2 separate regions of the Homo sapiens genome follow, and region 2 is linked to region 1. Evidence: fine-mapped expression QTL. A gene starts in region 1. The other region holds a variant in brackets. All regions are shown on one strand. Distances are between the middles of the regions.

Region 1 (8,553 bases):
TCTGCGCTTGCCCAGGCTGGGGGATGCTGCCTCCCCAACAAGCTTTAGCCCCACCTTGAGGAAATCCCATTTTGGAGAAGACATAGCACAGCAGGAGCACCCCCATACTGGAGGGATTAAGAGAGACCCGAAGCAGCTGGGTGCTGTGGCTCATGCCTGTAATCCCAGCACTTTGGGAGGCTGAGGCGGGAGGATCACTTAAGATCAAGAGTTTGAGCCAGGTGCGGTGGCTCACGCCTGTAATCCCAGCACGCTGGGAGGCCAAGGTGGGCGGATCACAAGGTCAGGAGTTCAAGATCAGCCTGGCCAACATAGTGAAACCCCGTCTCTACTTAAAATACAAAAATTAGCTGGATGTGGTGGCAGGCGCCTGTAGTCCCAGCTACTCGGTAGGCCGAGGCAGGAGAATCCCTTGAACCCCGGAGGCGGAGGTTGCAGTGAGCCAAGACCACACCATTGTACTCCAGCCTGGGTGACAGAATGAGACTCCGTCTCAAAAAAAAAAAAAAAAAAGGTGGCCGGGCGCAGTGGCTCATGCCTGTAATCCCAGGACTTTGGGAGGCTGAGGCAGGCAGATCACCTGAGGTCAGGAGTTCGAGACCAGCCTGACCAACATGGAGAAACCCCGTCTCTACTAAAAATACAAAATTAGCAGGATGTGGTGGCGCATGCCTGTAATCCCAGCTACCTGGGAGGCTGAGGCAGGAGAATCGCTTGAACTCGGGGGCAGAGGTTGCGGTGAGCCGAGATCGTGCCATTGCACTCCAGCCTGGGCAAGAAGAGCGAAAGAGTGAAACTCCGTTTCAAAAAAAAAAGGCCAGGCGCAGTGGCTAACACCTGTAATCTCAGCACTTTGAGAGGCCGAGGTGGGAGGATCACGAAGTCAGCAGATGGAGACCATCCTGGCTAACACGGTGAAAGCCCGTCTCTGCTAAAAATACAAAAAATTAGCCGGGTGTGGTGGCAGGAGCCTGTAGTCCCAGCTACTCGGGAGGCTGAGGCAGGAGAATGGCATGAACCTGGGAGGTGGAATGAGCGGAGATCACGCCACTGCACTCCAGCCTGGGCGACAGAGCAAGACTCCGTCTCAAAAAAAAAAAAAAAAAAAAAAAGAGTTTGAGGCCATTCTGGCCAACATGGTGAAACACCATCTCTACTAAAAAATATAAAAATTATATTAGTCGGGTGTGGTGGCGCTCGCCTGTAATCCAGCTACTCAGGAGGCTGAGGCTGTGAGAATCGCTTGTATCCAGGTGACGGAGCCTGCAGTGAGCCAAGATGGCGCCACTGCACTCCAGCCTGGGCCACCGCACTCCAGCCTGGGCGACAGGGCAAGATCCTGTCTAAAAAAAGAGAGACTCAAAGGGAGAAGAGGGGTTGGAGGCACACAGAGAGGAGAGCTAAGGGGCTTCCTGGAGTAGGGGGTGTCAAACAAAGCCTGCAGGCACATGGAAAACACCAGTCCATGCCCAGCAAACAGCACGTGCAAAGGGAGGTGAGACTCAGCCTGCTGGGCACCAAGCCCGGTTGGAAGTTCGATGCCCCTGGAATTAAATGGGAGAGAAGTCAGCATGGACCACATGGCACCAGCCCCAGGGCTTCCAGGAGGAGGAGGAGGAGGAGGAGAAGGAGAAGGAGGAGGAGGAGGAGGAGGAGGAAAATAAGTGGAAGCTGTCCATGAGAAAGCAGGATCACCTTGGAGGGCTGAACCTAGAGGAGCCACCCCAGTAGCGGCAGAGACAAAAGTCCAGATACAGGCTCTAGCCCTTCTCTGCCGGGGGATGCTCTGTTTGTGGGACCTGGTGTTTTGAAATTCGGTCATGTGTAAAGCAAAGGTCCAAGTAGGAGATGATAAATGTAATAAGATAATAGTAGTAGTAGTAATAACAGCTCACGTTACCCGGTGCCTGCACACGTTATGCGTGAGGCTGAGTTTAACCCAAATTGGGAAGGTCTCCACCTCCTCCCTGGACCCAGGGCTGTCGCAAACTGGCCGCCCGCGGGCCAGGCCGGATCCTTTTTCAGACCTTTCCTGCACACAGCCAACAGCACGCCTCACATTGTCACCACCGGAGAGGACGCCCTGGGCTATGCGTCTGGATTGGCCGGTCAGCACCCGTTTGTGAATGGACTCTTTGGCCTTTGGCCTCCAGGAAATCTGATTGGCTCGCATCAGCGATCTACCCCCTGATTGGCTGGGGTGCTCCTGGACCATTAACAAGGTTTCCAGTCAAAAGAGACCCCAAACTGGGGCTGATGAAGACAACACCTTCACGTGCCAGATTGGTTAGAATTTCTCTGGCTTCCTGGTGGGTACTTCCCTCTTTGGGCCTCAGTTTCTTCCTTTGAAAAGTGGAACTAATAATAGCACTGACCACTCGGGCTGTTGGGAGAATTGAATGCATGAGAGGGCTTAGCCTGTTAATATGAACGGTTATTCCCACTTTACTATTATTTTATTATTATTTTAATCTTCTTCCACTTGGACCTTTATTTTTATTTTTGAGATAGGGTCTCGTGATCATGGCTCACTATAGCCTCAAACTCCTGGGCTCAAGAGATCCTTCTTGGCTGGGCGCGGTGGCTCACGCCTGTAATTCTAGCACTTTGGGAGGCCGAGGTGGGCGGATCACCTGAGATCAGGAGTTTGATACCAGCCTGGCCAACATGGCGAAACCCCGTCTCTACTAAAAATACAAAAATTAGCCGGGCGTGGTGACATGTGCCTGTAATCCCAGCTACTCGGGAGGCTGAGGCAGGGAGAATTACTTGAACCCGGGAGGTGGAGGTTGCAGTGAGCCGAGATTGCGCCACTGGACTCCAGCCTGGGTAACAGAGCATGATTCTTTCTCAAAAAAAAAAAAAAGAGAGAGAGAGAGAGATCCTTCTGCCTCAGCCTCCTTGAGTAGCTGGGACTACAGTCATGAGCCACCACACCTGGTACACTTAGACTTTCATTCCATGCTCCTTCCTGGCTTCCTGCCCTTTTTGATTCCCCCACTCCTGCTCCTAGCCCTCCAGAGGAGTCTTCCCAGCCCCTCAATATGGGCATGTCCTCTCCTGCTCCAGCACCTTCCATAGCTCCCCATCACCCTAGGGGGAAAGTCTAACCTCTTCAAAATCAGCACTGAAGGCCCTGGAAGCATTAAGTCCTGGCCATCAGCCTCTAGTGCTAAGAAATAGGTTCAAGTTCTTGTTTCCCCATATAAACAGGTAAGAAAGGCTACATGCCTCTGGGCCTTTGCACGTGCTGTGGCCTCTGCCCGGAATGCCCTCATTCAGTCGGGGAATCCGTGCTCATCCCTCCACCTTCGTGGAGGGACGCCTGTGCTGGGTTGGTTTGGAGAGGAAGCCGGAACTGCGTGGGTTCAAATCCTGTCTGACTCTGTCACCTATACTTTGTGAAACCCGGACAGTGGCTATGCTTCTCTGAACCTCAGTTTCCCCTTTTGTAACATAGAACTTACCATCAGGAAATGTTTGACCCCCCCACCATGGAACAGGCCCCACTTCTTGACGTCAGCAGCACCCCCATTCGCCTACCCGGAGGCGGTTTCTCTATTTTAAGAGGCTGCGGGCGGGTTGGCATCTAACTGGGGCTGGAGGCGGGACTGCCCCCCCACCAACACCACGCTGCTCGCCAATCCCGCCCCGCCCCCTCCTTTCCGCCCAAGTCCCCCACTCTTGCCTCTGGCCTCAGCGCCTCCAGTTCTGCCCCACCCCCGCGCGGCCAGAGACCGGGTGTCTCTGATCTGCAGCTCAGCCCGTGCCTTCCCTGACCACTCCCGACCTGGCTTCCCATCACCTGCTGAGTTCGCAGTCCCGCAGCTACCGGTGCGGCTCCAGGTTGGAGACCCGCCGGCCCCATTCCTCTCACCCCCTCAACCCGCCCGGAGCTAACCTCAGTCCCCGACCCCCACCCCACCTGCTCAGTCCTCCCTAGGTTCCAGCTTCTGTCAACCTCTTTCATTTCCCTAAATACCGCCCCCCGCTGCAATGCCTCGCCACCCTTGGCTGCCTCCTCTACCCCAGGGCTCCCAGCAATGACTGGGTCAGGCGCCTCCTTCACTTGCTGTGAGTCCCTTATCACAACTGATCACTCCGTGGGGTCACCGCTGCTCTGGCGTCTACCTCCCCCAACAGGTTGGGGTTTCTAGGAGGGCAGCTCCAGAGGTTGCAGAACACTCCGCTGCCTCTCCAGAGCCAGGCACACAGCAGGCGCTCCATAAATGTTCGTTGGGTAAGTGCTGAATCCCAGGTTCCCTACCTGAAAACTTGGTGGCTTCTTAAGGGTGTGGTCTAAGTCCCAGAGGAAAATGGCCAAATCTTAATTCCTGTTTTTCTTTTCTTATAATGGGGACACTGAGGCCCAGAGAAGTCAAAGGGTGGCTGCCCGGGGTCATGTAGTCCCTGTGTGGCTTCAAACTTAGGCTTCTGCTGTCCCCGACGCCTGTGTCCCTACCTCCTGATGACACAGCCTCCTAAACATAAACTCAGTAAAAGGAGGACCCTATGGCTCATTGGAAAACTGAGGCCCAGAGAAGCAAGGGTGCCCTCCCCCCAGGTCACACTGCTGGTTGGCAGCGCCTTGTGCCGTAAGAGAGCTGGTTGAGGGCGCAGATCGAATCCCAGCTAGGCGACCTCTGGAGAGTGGCTTTCCGGGACTAGAGCCTCAGTTTCCTTATTCTGACAAATGGGCGCCTGACAGCCCCAACCTCCCCAGGTCGTCGTAGGGCTGAGCTGAGGGTGTACAGTGGTGCAGCGACGACCCAAGGAGGTATTAATACATATGAACTCATATTAATACATCGCTAGTAATAGGACTAAAACAACCATGAACATATGGTGAGCTCTCTGGCTGCTGTTGCTAGCATTATTATTAGAACAGCTGGTGGGGAGGGGCAGAGCCCTCAGCCTCTTCCTCCCACGCCATCGCTTGGAGCCTCAGTTTCCCTAGATGTCCAAGGGGGCACCTTCCCCCTTCCCACCATGAGAAAAAGCACTTTGAGAAGCGGGTGGTCAAAAAGAAGCGATCTGAGCGTTCCCCACCCTCTGCCTCAGTTTCCCTACAGCCCGTGAAGGCCCCGCCCCTCCCGGCACCTTTCAGGCCGCGTCCACTTGGCCGCGCCCTCTGCCTTCCGCCCGCCCGCGCAGGGGCCTCACCTGGAGCCCGCGGCGCCGCAGGAGGCTCGACTCGTCCATGGCCCGGGAGTCCGCGCCGCCAGGCCCGCCCCCGGCCCCGCCCCGGCCTGCCAGGCCCCGCCGCCAGGTGCCATTGGCCAGGCCGGTCAGCTGACACGGCCTGGCCCCGCCCCTCCCGGGGAGCCCGACCACAGGGCCCCGCCCCCACTGGGCGAGCTGGCCCCGCCCCTCCAGCAGAGCGCAGAAGTAAATATTTTGCATGAATCCTCTCAGAAGTAAGGCAGCATCGTTCAGCCCCATTTTGCAGATGAAGAAACTGAGGCTAAGATAGGTTAATCAATATGCCCAGCGCATTGGCCGGGCGCAGTGGCTCACGCCTGTATCCCAGCACTTTGGGAGGCCGAGGTGGGCAGATCACTTGAGGTCAGGAGTTCGAGATCACCCTGGCCAACATGGTGAAACCCTGTCTCTACTAAACAAAAAAAACCAAAACAAAACAAAAAAAAAATTACTTGGGGGTGGTGACGCGCGCCTGTAATCCCAGCTACTCAGAAGACTGAGGCAGGAGAATCGCTTGAATCCAAGAGGCGGAGGTTACAGTGAGCCGGGATAGCGCCGCTGCACTCCAGACTGGGCGACAGAGCGAGACTCTGTCTCAAAAACAAAAACAAAACAACAACAAAAAATGTGCCCAGTACACACAGCAGAACGGGTTCTAGGGTGAGGCGAGTGAGGATCTCACCCCTGTGCAAAATTTAAGGTGGCCCCACAAAACTCAGCCATCAAGAGAAATAATATTTTAAAAACATAAAATTAATGAAAACATTTATGATGAACAAAACATCAAAACTTTTATTTTTTATTTTATTTTTAGAGACGGGGATCTCACTATGTTGCCCAGGCTGGTCTTGAACTCCTGGCCTCAAAAGATCCTTCTGCCTAGGCCTCCCAAAGTGTTGGGATTACAGGTGTCAGCCACCGCATATGGCCAAAACACCAAAACTTTTTTTTTTTTTTTTTAATTTATGAGACGAGTCTCTCTGTTGCCCAGACTAGAATGCAGTGGCATGATCTCGGCAACCCCTGCCTCCTGGGTTCAAGCTATTCTCATGCCTCAGCCTCCCTAGTAGCTGGGACTACAGGTGCCCACCACCACACCAGGCTGATTTTTTGTATTTTTGGTAGAGATGAGGTCTCACCATGTTGGCCAGGCTTGTCTCGAACTCCTGGCCTCAGGTGATTCACCCACCTTAGCCTCCCAAAGTTCTGGGATTGCAGGCCAAAGAGTTTTGGTGTTTTGCCTGGCCAAAACACTAAAACTCTTAAGACATGATCAGACCCTTGTCCTTGCACCACTCAGCCTTGTTTGCCTCCCTTTAATCCTGGCCCTGGTGCCAATAAAACTTTACTTACAAAAGCAGGTAGCCGCTGCAGTTGTCAGTTTCTTTTTTGAGGATGATTGCCTTTTTGCCCTAAGTGTCTCATAAACACCATCTCTCACAGATATTTGAAGATAATTGTTCTACTCCATTTTGCAGGAGGGGAAACTGAGGCTGAGAAAAGCCCAAAGTCCCAAAATAGCACCCACATTTAAAAAAAAATTTTTTTTTTGAGACAGGGTCTCTCTCTGTCACCCAGGCTGGAGTGCAGTGGTGCAATCTTGTCTCATTGCAGCCTCTACCTCCCGGGCTCAAGCGATCTTCCTGCCTCAGCCCCCATACCCCAGCTCCCAGAGTAGGTGGGACCACAGGCACATGCCACCATGCCTGGCTAATTTTTTTGGGTTTTTTTTGTAGAGATGGAGTACCGCCATGTTTCCCGCGCTGGTCTCGAACTCCTGGCCTCAAGTGATGCTCCTGCATCAGCCTCCCAAAGCGCTGGGACTACAGGCATGAGCCACTGTGCCTGGCTTAGCACCTGCATTTTTTCTTTCCCTGGGACTCGCACTTTCTCTGCAGCCGCAGTTGTCTTCGGCTGCCCCACTGTACAGTGTGGACACTGGAGTATGCTTTCAGGCTCGAGGGGACCCTAGGAAGGGTCACTGGGCCTGACTGTCCATGAGGTACTGTAGAATTGCATCAAGTTATGGTGGCCAGATTGAGCAAATAAAAATACAGGATGCCAGGGAAAACTTGTTTTTCTCATACAATTTTAAAAATTGACATATAATTCACATACCATAAAATTCACGCTTTTAAAGTGTGCAATAAATTCAGTGTTTTAAGCATACTCACAGAGTTGTGTAACCATCACCACGATCTGATTCCAGGACATTTGTATCATCCCCAAAAGAAACCCTGTACCTATTAGCAGCCAGTCCTCATTCCCCCTCTCTCAGCCCCTGGCAACTACCAATCTGCTTCCTGTTCTATGAATTTTCCTGTGCTGGATATTTCATAAAAATGAAAACATAACATGTGGCCTTATGTGTCTGGCTTCGTTCAGCATCATGCTTTCAAGATGCACCCATGTTGTGGCAAATATCAGTACTTCATTCCGTTTCATGACCAAATAATATTCCATTGTATATATGTACATGTACATTTTGTTGATCCACTCATTTGTTGGTGGTCACTTGGATTTTTTCACATTTTGGTAGCTATTCTGAATAGAGCTGCTATAAACATTGGCATACAACTTTTTGCATAGATTTATTTCTTTATTTATTTATTTTGAGATGAAGTGTTGCTCTGATGCCCAGGCTGGAGTGCAGTCGCGGGATCTTGGCTCACTGCAACCTCTGCCTCCCAGGTTCAATTGATTCTCCTGCCTCAGCCTCCTGAGTAGCTGGGATTACAGACACCCGCCACCACTCCCAGCTAATTTTTGCATTTTTAGTAGAGACGGGGGTTTCACCATGTTGGCCAGGCTGGTCTCAAACTCCTGACCTTTAAGTGATCCATCCACCTTGGCCTCCCGAAAGGCTGGGATTGCAGGTGTGAGCTACCGCCCCCTGCCTTTGTGGATATATTTTGGTTCTCTTGGGTACTTACCTAGGAATGGACTTCCGGGGTCATATGGTGTAACTCTATGTTTTGGGTTGTTTTGTTTTGTTTTGGGACAGGGTCTTGCTCTTTCGCCCAGGCTGGAGGGCGGAGTAGCTGAGACTACAGGCACATGCCGCCATGCCCAGCTAATTTTTTGTATTTTTTGTAGAGACAAGGTTTCGCCATGTTACCCAGGCTGATCTCAAAATCTTGGGCTCAAGCGATCCTCCTGCCTTGGCTTCCCAACGTGCTGGGATTACAGGCATGAGCCACTGCGCCCAGCAACTCTATATTTTAAATTTGTAAAAGACAACCAGGCTGTTTTCCAAAGCAAACACCCAGTTAAATTTAAATTTCCATAAACAATGAATGTTTTTTCAGTGTAAGTATGCCCCCTTCAGTACTTGGGACATAGTTGCATTAA
Region 2 (8,553 bases), 74 kb before region 1:
CATCCCTAAGACCAGACCCACTGCCTCTGACCCCCATAGTATCTCACTTTACTCAGGACCTCCACACAGGCTGATCCCTCTGCCAGGAACACCCTTCATCCTCCTTCCACAGTGTCTCCTCAGTGCCCTCTCCTTGCCACTCTCTCAGCCCTGATCTAACCCTGCAGGACTAGGGTGTCACTAGGTGAGGCCTCTTGGGTGACCCGGATGTTTGATGAATGAATAAATGATTGGAGCCAATGAGTCACTTCTCTGGGAGTCATTCTTCACAATCCCCCGGGGAAGTAGGTGGGGTCTGTCCTATCATCTCCACATCCCATCATCTGTGTCTCTGCACATTCCTGCTCATCCTTCCATGCCCAGCTCAGAAATGCCTCCTCCAGTAAGTCCTCTGTGATCACTCATGCTCCTAAGAGACCTGCATTCATTCCCCTGATTCAGAGATGGAGGCTTCAAGAGGGGAGGCTGGGGCCGGGCGTGGTGGCTTACACCTGTAATCCTTTGGGAGGCTGGGACAGGCGGATAACTTGAGGTCAGGAGTTTGAGACCAGCCTGGCCAACATGGTGAACACTGTCTCTACTAAAAATACAAAAATTAGCCGGGCATGGTGGTGCACACCTGTAGTCCCAGCTACTGGGGAAGCTGAGGCAGGAGGATCACTTAAACTGAGGAGACAGTGGTTGCAGTCAGCCAAGATTGCACCACTGCACTCCAGCCTGGGCGACAGAGCAAAACCCTGTCTCAAAAAAAAAAAAAAAAAAAAAAAAAAAAAAAGGGCTGGGTGCGGTGGCTCACGCCTGTAATCCCAGCACTTTGGGAGGCCAAGGCAGGCGGATCACAAGGTCAGGAGTTCAAGACAAGCCTGACCAACATGGTGAAACCCTGTCTCTACTAAAAACACAAAAATTAGCTGGGCATGGTGGCACACAACTGTAATCCCAGCTACTCAGGAGGCTGAGGCTGGAGAATCACTTGAACCCTGGAGGTGGAGGTTGCAGTGAGCTGGGATTGCGCCACTGCATTCCAGCCTGGGCGACAGAGCGAGACTCTGTCTCAAGAAAAAATAAAAAAATAAATAAAATAAAGAAGGGTAGTTGTTTTCCTGGGCTGCACAGACAGCAGTGGTCAGGGCTAGGACTTGAATTTGGGTCTGCCTGGATGCAGGGAAGGTTACCACCCATGTCCCCCTCCTTGGGTGGAGTGAGGGGCGTCACTCACTAGTGGCAGACTTCTCTCCATGTCCTCAAACTCTTCCATGCAGACAATGGTCAGGAAGGCTAGCTCCATGTCAAGTTCATCCAACACGCAGGCCTGGGGTTTGGAGAGGGGGCAGGAGAGGGCATGAAGAGGGCCTAGGGTACCCTGACACCCTCTCGTAATAATCACCAGTACCCACCCAGGAGATAGGGAATAAAGATGTGATTAAATGGGAGCACACGAGGCAGAAGACAGAGCTGGCATCCTCGTATTTGCCTCCTGTACGTGGGACAGTTTTCCCCCACCCCAGTGTGGGGCCCTGGGGCCGCTCACCTCCACCTTGTTGAATTTGCACTCCTCTTCTCCATGCTGGCACTTGAACTCCCACCTGCCACTGACATTTTGTTCCTGCAAGGCAGCAGGGTGAGAGCCTGCTGGTAGGCTGGGTCCCCTGCTCCCCTGCCCACGTGCCTCAGTTTCCCCAGCGCCCACACACCTGTGCGTTTCCGTAGGGCACCAGCGTGACATTGAGGATCTCCATGACCAACAGCCATGTTGGGAAGAGCTCCCGGATCAGGAAGGCTCGGCAGCCACCGCACAGTGCTTCATAGTAGAGGGTCACATTGACAAGCGGTGCATTGGACTTCTTCAGGGGCCCCCGCAGGTATAGATTGCCTGTCTGTGGATTAGGAAGGCGTGGGAGGCAGGTGTAGCCCTGGGCAGTTCCCCACTTCTCTCAACCCCACTTGGTAGTCTTGTAGAAAGGGGGCTGTGATACGCAATTCATCTTGCACGCCTTCCAGAACTTGCCAGGTGGAATCTTGACTTTGAGACTTTTTTTTTTTTTTTTGAGATGGAGTCTCACTGTCGCTAGGCTGGTGTGCTGCGGCACGATCTCGGCTCACTGCAACACCCGACTCCCTGGTTCAAGCAATTGTCCTGCCTCAGCCTCCTGAGTAGCTGGGATTATAGGCACATGCCACCACACCCAGCTAATTTTTGTATTTTTAGTAGAGACAGGGTTTCTCCATGTAGGCCAGAATGGTCTCGAACTCCTGACCTCGTGATCTGCCTGCCTCAGACTTCCAAAGTGTTGGGATTACAGGCATGAGCCACCGCCTCCGGCCTTGGCCCATGCTCATTTCTTGTCACTTCACCTGGAGACCTTGCCTCTGAGCTGAGCAAGGGATCCACGTGAACCCTTTCCAAGTCCGACTGAATAGAGGCGGCACCTAATAGGTGCTGACTTCCGGCTTCAGCTGAGGGGTGGCGGGTGGCCCATGTCGCTGGAGCGGTGAGCAAGTCGCTCAGCCTCTAGGGCATCTGCCTAATAGGTCCCAAAGACACGCGAGCCCTGCCCTGGCTGGAATGAATGCATCAAGGGTAGCAGCAAGAATGCATGCCGGCGGCCCTTGGCCAGCTGCTGAACTTGTGCCCTGGGCCACAAAAGGAGACCCCAGCTCCTGCCCCAAAAGTACACAGTAGGCGCTCATTGAACCCTTGGGCGGGACTAGGCGGGTGGAGGCAGCTGCGCCTCTCAGATGCGGGATGCGAAAGCGAAACGGCACGGAGGGAGTGTGGCCGCAGCGCCGGGAACTGAACAGGGTTTTTCCAGGAACCCGGCAGGGACAGCGTCCCCTCGGGGCCCTGGTCTTCCCCTGTGAAGTCTGGGGAGAAAGAAGGAGCCGCGTGCCCCGACAGGGCGCCTGTTCCCTCCAGCCTGCCCGCCCTGTCGCCGTCCCTACCTTGTAGTTAACTGGTGGCCCATTCCCAAAGAAGTCTAACGCTTGCAGAGGGGACGCCTGCACCGCCGCCGTGGGGACGTCCAGCAGCAGCAGCAGCGGTGGCAGGAACAGCAGAAGTGGCGACAGGGTCATCGCAGCAGGGGCAAAGGTGTGGCGACTGCAGCGGCTGCCTGGGAAATAAGCGCCTTTAACCAGGCGGCGGTCCCGCCCCTAACCCGGGCCCGCCTCCCGATGCCCACGCCCCTCGGGTCCCGGGCCAGCGTCTCTCCCTCCTCCACTCCTTCCTCTGAGTGTCCCACCCCCACCCCTGCCAGGTGCTGGGTCCCCAGTCACGAGGCCATTGGGCCCCTTGGCAATCAGCCCTGCCCAGGCACGTGAGCCCTGGCGCAAGACTACCTTTAGGGGAGGTGAGGTGGGGCCTTTGAGACAGACACAGGCTGAGAGGAATGGTGGTGTCTCCACGCACCCCTAGACCTTCTAGGGGCGGCTAGGGGACTTGAGGCCCGAGACCCACTCTCAGAGTGGGCCTGTGACCTAACAGGGGTGACGTCGGATGGAGGCTGGGGATGGGATGGAGGCCGGGGTTTTGGGGGAGTAACTGAAATATTCAGGCCCCCGAGAGTGGGCAAGGCCTGTGTGGCCAGGTCTCCTCCCTCCAGTCTCGCCCGTGACCTCCCTCACACCCAACCCCCACATCCTGCCCCTCAACCCTTCCCCCCTCAAACTCCTGACCCCGACGCTCCAGACCCCTCACCGTGGTCCCGTGGGACTGACTCAGGCTTGACCACAGCCACGCCGGAAAGCAGAAGCTGGCGCAGGGAGTGGCGTGTCATTTCTCTAGGGTACCCACCCAGCCCCACTTCTGGCTTGGGGTGAAGAGAACTGGCCTTCCTTCTTTTCATCGTTCAAGGCTTGTGGGGGGTGGGGGGCAACCTGGCCTTCAAGGGACGCCCATGGGGGAGAGAGGCAGCCTGTGCTGTCTGGGATAGGGGTGGGGTGGCTTGGAGTCCACCTGGCTTTGGATTTGAGTGACAGAGCCTCAGCTTTCCCTTCTGTGTAATGGGGAGAAGGATAAGGTTTGGGGAACAAGAGTCACCATGGAGGGCTCAGAGGCAGGTGGGGGAGAGTTGTCCCAGGCTGGGGCTTCTGGATGGCATGGTCAGGCCTTGGTGCCTACACAGGACAGTGGCCCCAACAGTGAAGGCAGAGAGAATAGCCTGGAAAAAAGGCCCAGATGGAGGCTGGAGTGTTGGGGGAATAACTGAGACATTCCAACCCTGCCAGGCCTTACATTCAGGGCAAGACACATCGGATCCTAGGGAAGAAAATGTCCCACACCCAGCTGGAAGATATACCTGAGTCCCCAGCTGTGCCCCCCTCTAGTTGTGGGGAAGACCCTGGCCACACACACAGTAGCTGGTTTGGGAGCCGGAGCTTCTCTGAAGTCCCAGTGGCTGGATGGTCCCCGAGCCCATCCCTCAGACGACCAAACCGTTGGCAAAGGCTCCCCAAGACTCACCACCCCAACTTTGGTGCTTACCCTATGCCGGGTGGGATTGAAGAAATAACCATAAATATAATTGCTACAATTTTTCCAGTAGTTACCAGGCACCAGCCCTATTGGAAGAAATCATAAATGTAACCCTACAATGTATTGCTCTCTGGCTTGGTGCCAGGCATAGAGTGGGCCTACAACCCATTTTATCATTGAACCCTCAGAAGCATCCAGTTGGGGCTGGGGGTAGGTGCTACTGACTCCAGCTGGTAACAAATAAATGGCTGATCAGAGAGGGAAGGCTATTTTGCCAAGGACACACAGCCAGTGGTTGAGTGTTTTTAGAGACCACACGGGATATTCTCTTCCACCCCCAGCTCAGCATAGCTGGGATCATAAAGATGGCAACCTTTCTCCTGTGAGCACCTATGCAGTGAGAGGCACAATCTGGGCTGGAGTTATTTATGGGTTATCTCCAGACAGGACACATGGCAGGGACAGTGCCTGGCAAGGCTAGGGGGCTCTGAGGCTAAGGGAGGCAGGTCCTGTCCCAAGGTCCCAGCAGTAGACTGGGTCAGAGTGGAGGTTTCTTTCTGCACTTGCCCCAGGTTCAGCCTTGTTGGGCCTTGAGAGGTGGCTGTACAAAACAGACAAGGACAGTGAGGCCCCAGGGTTGGGGAGGGCTGAAGGGACAATGACGTCGCAGTGGGGGTGTGGATTCTGGGTGTGATGGGGAGGGTGGTAAACAGGAGTCCAAGTCAAAGACGCCATGAGGCCACGCGTGGTGGCTTACGCGACTCAGGGAGGCTGAGGTGGGAGGATCACTAGAGGCCAGGAGTTTGAGACCCACCTGGAAAAGGGCAAGACCCTTTTTTTTTTTTTTTTTCTTGAGACAGAGTCTCACTCTGTCACCCAGGCTGGAGAACAGTGGCACGATCTTGGCTTGGTGCAGC[G/A]TTGACCTCCCAGGTTCATCTGATCTTCCTATCTCAGCCTCCCAAGTAGCTGGGATTACAGGCATGCGCCACCATGTCTGGCTAATTTTTTTTTGTATTTTTAGTGGAGACCAGGTTTTACCATGTTGGCCAGGCTGGTCTCAAACTCCTGACCTCAAGTGATCTGCCTGCCTTGGCTTCCCCAAGTGCTGGAATTACAGGTGTGAGCCACTGCACTCGGCAAGATCTTGTTTCTAAAAAAATTTAAAAATAATTAGCTGGACATGGTGACACACACCCGTAATCCAGTGACTCTAAAGGCTGAGATGAGAGGACTGCTTGAGGCTGGGAACCAGGAGCTTGAGGCTGTGAGCCGCGAGCTGTGTTCGCACAACTGCACTCCAGCCTGGGTGACAGAGTGAGAGACCTTGACTCTTTAAAAAGAAACACAAAAAACCCCACAGGGCTTTTGCTCAGCGTCTCCTGGGACCCGGCGGGCTGTGCATGGGAGTGGGTGAGGAGAGGTCAGAGAAGAGCCTCCAATGCTGGCTGGAGGTGCCGACGACTTGAGAACATCAAAGACACGGGAGACTCCTCCCTGTGGCATGGGAGGGTTTTGACTTTTGACGCCACTTGGCAATGAATGAGGAAGCTGTGGATCAGGGAGGGGATACAACTTTCCCAAGGACACAGCTGATGGTTGCGACAGGATTCAAATTTGGGGGCGGTGGGCGGGGGAAGCAGCTTGGAAGCACTTGAGGGGCTGGATGGGGTCTGGGGTCCCCTGAGCAGTCGGGAGCTCAGGATTCGAATCTCTCTCCTGTATGACCTTGGGCACTGCCTCAACCTCTCCAGGCTTGAGCAGCTAAACTGGGGGAGGGAGGGGTTGTCGGGTCTCAGAGGGGCTTGGAGTTAAACCCACGGGTCCGACCTGCTGTGACCCCCGTAGACACCAGGGTCCCCGACACGCAGAGGTGGTACTGAAGCCCAGTCACTGACAACAGAATCACCCACGACGTTTGATGTTTTATATCATATCAATAACAACGTACCGTACAAAACCTGCCTCCCAGCTCGTGGGGCAGGCAGTGTGGTGGCCAAGGGCAGCGTAGAAAACCAGGGCTCTTGTCCCAAAAGAGGAGAGGAAAGAGGGTTTTGCAGTCAAGGAAAAACAGAATCAAAACCCAACATGATCGAAGAGAAGCCCTGAATCTGCATCAGAGGGAGGGGCCGTGGGCAGTGTCGCAACTTGGCCACTGCGGCGGCACCAGTACGGGGAGCTGTGATTCCTAGGAGGGGTTGGGGCCAGCTCACAAGTTTATTTATTTATTTTTTTGAGACGGAGGAGTCTCCCTCTGTTACCCAGGCTGGAGTGCAGTGGCACGATCTCTGCTCACTGCAACCTCCATCTCCTGGGTTCAAGAGATTCTCACGCCTCAGCCTCCCAAGTAGCTGGGATTACAGGCGGCCGCCACCACGCCCGGCTAATTTTTGTATTTTAGTAGATGCGGGGTTTTGCCATTTTGGCCAGGCTGGCCTCCAACTCCCGACCTCAAAAGATCCGCCCGTCTTGGCCTCCCAAAGTGCTGGGATTACAGGCATGAGCCACCGTGCCTGGCCTGCGAGTTTAATTATTTTTTCGGGGGTGGGTGAACTTCTCGCAGCGGCCCCCTTGTGGGGGTAACCCGGTGGCGGGTTTCACTTCGGGGTTTGGAGGGGAAGTTGGAGTCTGTGGGGCGGGTCCCGCCCGGCCCCGAATGTCACGGCCGAGGTTCTCGGAAGCAGCAGAGTGAAGTTCCTTCCTGCCCTGACCCCAGGTCTATGGCTTAAAAATCAGGGTGCCCAGGCTGGGGCCGCGCAGCCCAGGGGCCCTCTGTAAACATGGCAGGTGCAGCCAGAAGGGGCTTCCGGGACCCCGGGGGACCTGCGGTGGGCAGGGCAGAGGGTCAGGGTGACCAGAGCCATGGAGAGGGCAATGCCCGGAGGACACGTAGATATGGGGTGGGGGAGTTAGGACCCCCAACATGGAGAGAGACAGGGGCCAAGAAAGACAGAGAAAAGGAGACAGAGGGAGATCTGGAGAATGGGGGAGGGAAGGAAAGAGAAAGAGGGTGAGAGAACCCCAAACAAGAGCCAGAGCCGGAGAAATGAGGACCCCTGGATGTGGCTGGTCTGGTCCGTGGCTCCCGCCGCCGCAGCCTCCGGCGCAGACGGGCCCAGGGGCGGCTCTGCTTGGGGCGGGTCCTCGGTGCTCAGCGGGCGGCAGGCGGCGGGCCGGGGCCCGGGGCGCGCACTGGGTGCGCCAGGGTGACGGTGAGCGCGTCGTTGTGCTGCACCAGCGAGGCGTGCTGGTAGTGCAGCACCAGCTCCTTCAGCGACCCGTACAGGTTGTAGGGCTCCGCGAAGCCGAAGCCGGTGGCCGTGCGGTAGATGACGCAGTGCTTGGTGTCGCCGTCCACTCTGTGGGGGCAGACGAGAGGGGGAGTCGGAAGGCTGGCCTCCCCGCCAAGCTTTCCCCGTTCCAGGGCCGCGTGCTCCCCTGTCCCGGATGACCCCACCAGGGACTCCTTCCCAAGGCCTGGCACGCGGCAGGCATTCAATGAGAGCTCTGGGAGGGACGCGGGAATCCCCACCGCTGCGGTCCACTCACACCACGGAGCAGGCGTAGCAGCCCCGCTGGCTGCTCTCGCGGATGAGGAAGGTGCCATCCCGCTTGCCACTCAGCATCTCCTCTGCCTGCGTGCGGTTGATCTTGCCCACGTACCAAGTGCGTTCCTCGTGGTGCGGGAGATCGTCCTCGTCCTCCATGAGTGCGTACTGGCTGGGGTGGGGGGCGGTGGCGGGGAGGGCCCTGGTCACTCACCTGCCAGCCTCCGAGGCTCCCCAGCTGCCTGGACAACTTTTCCTCCCTGGTGAACTCCTACTCATTCTTCGAAACCCACCCCAAATGGCCCCCTCCTCTGGGAAGCCCTCCCTGCCTCCCTCCAGACGGTCACTCACTCCTCAGTCTCATTTTTAATCCCCAGCCACTCGTTGATTTTCTTCTGCCGGGCGCCTTTCTGGGTGAGCCACCTGAGAAGGAACAGGAAAGGTGGGCTTGTGCAGTTGTGTGGGTGCTGAGCCCACAGTGGGCCTGTCCGGTGGGAGGCAGGGTCTGGCTGAGGAGAGAGGGTTCTGGGTACA

The links. PIP is the estimated chance that this variant, and not a neighbour inherited with it, causes the effect.
Region 2: its variant is fine-mapped to the expression of MAST3 in whole blood (TOPMed, PIP 0.97).

The regions. Positions count from the first base shown.
Region 1 is chr19:18,094,442-18,102,994 of GRCh38, reverse strand. MAST3 (microtubule associated serine/threonine kinase 3) reads right to left here and starts at 5,217. Exons shown (of 28, transcript NM_001393504.1): 1 at 5,164-5,217. The coding sequence starts at 5,202. It also overlaps a transcript of IL12RB1 not described here. RefSeq lists a silencer at 4,973-5,482.
Region 2 is chr19:18,168,364-18,176,916 of GRCh38, reverse strand. It overlaps PIK3R2 (phosphoinositide-3-kinase regulatory subunit 2), which reads right to left. Exons shown (of 16, transcript NM_005027.4): 14 at 8,371-8,442; 15 at 8,021-8,191; 16 at 6,385-7,830. The coding sequence ends at 7,623. IFI30 (IFI30 lysosomal thiol reductase) reads right to left here and starts at 3,104. Exons shown (of 7, transcript NM_006332.5): 1 at 2,944-3,104; 2 at 1,695-1,877; 3 at 1,532-1,606; 4 at 1,220-1,312. The coding sequence starts at 3,075. RefSeq lists enhancers at 1,877-2,542, 2,670-2,739, 5,787-6,006, 8,334-8,483 and a silencer at 3,050-3,359. The variant G/A (reference allele first, on the strand shown) is at 5,392.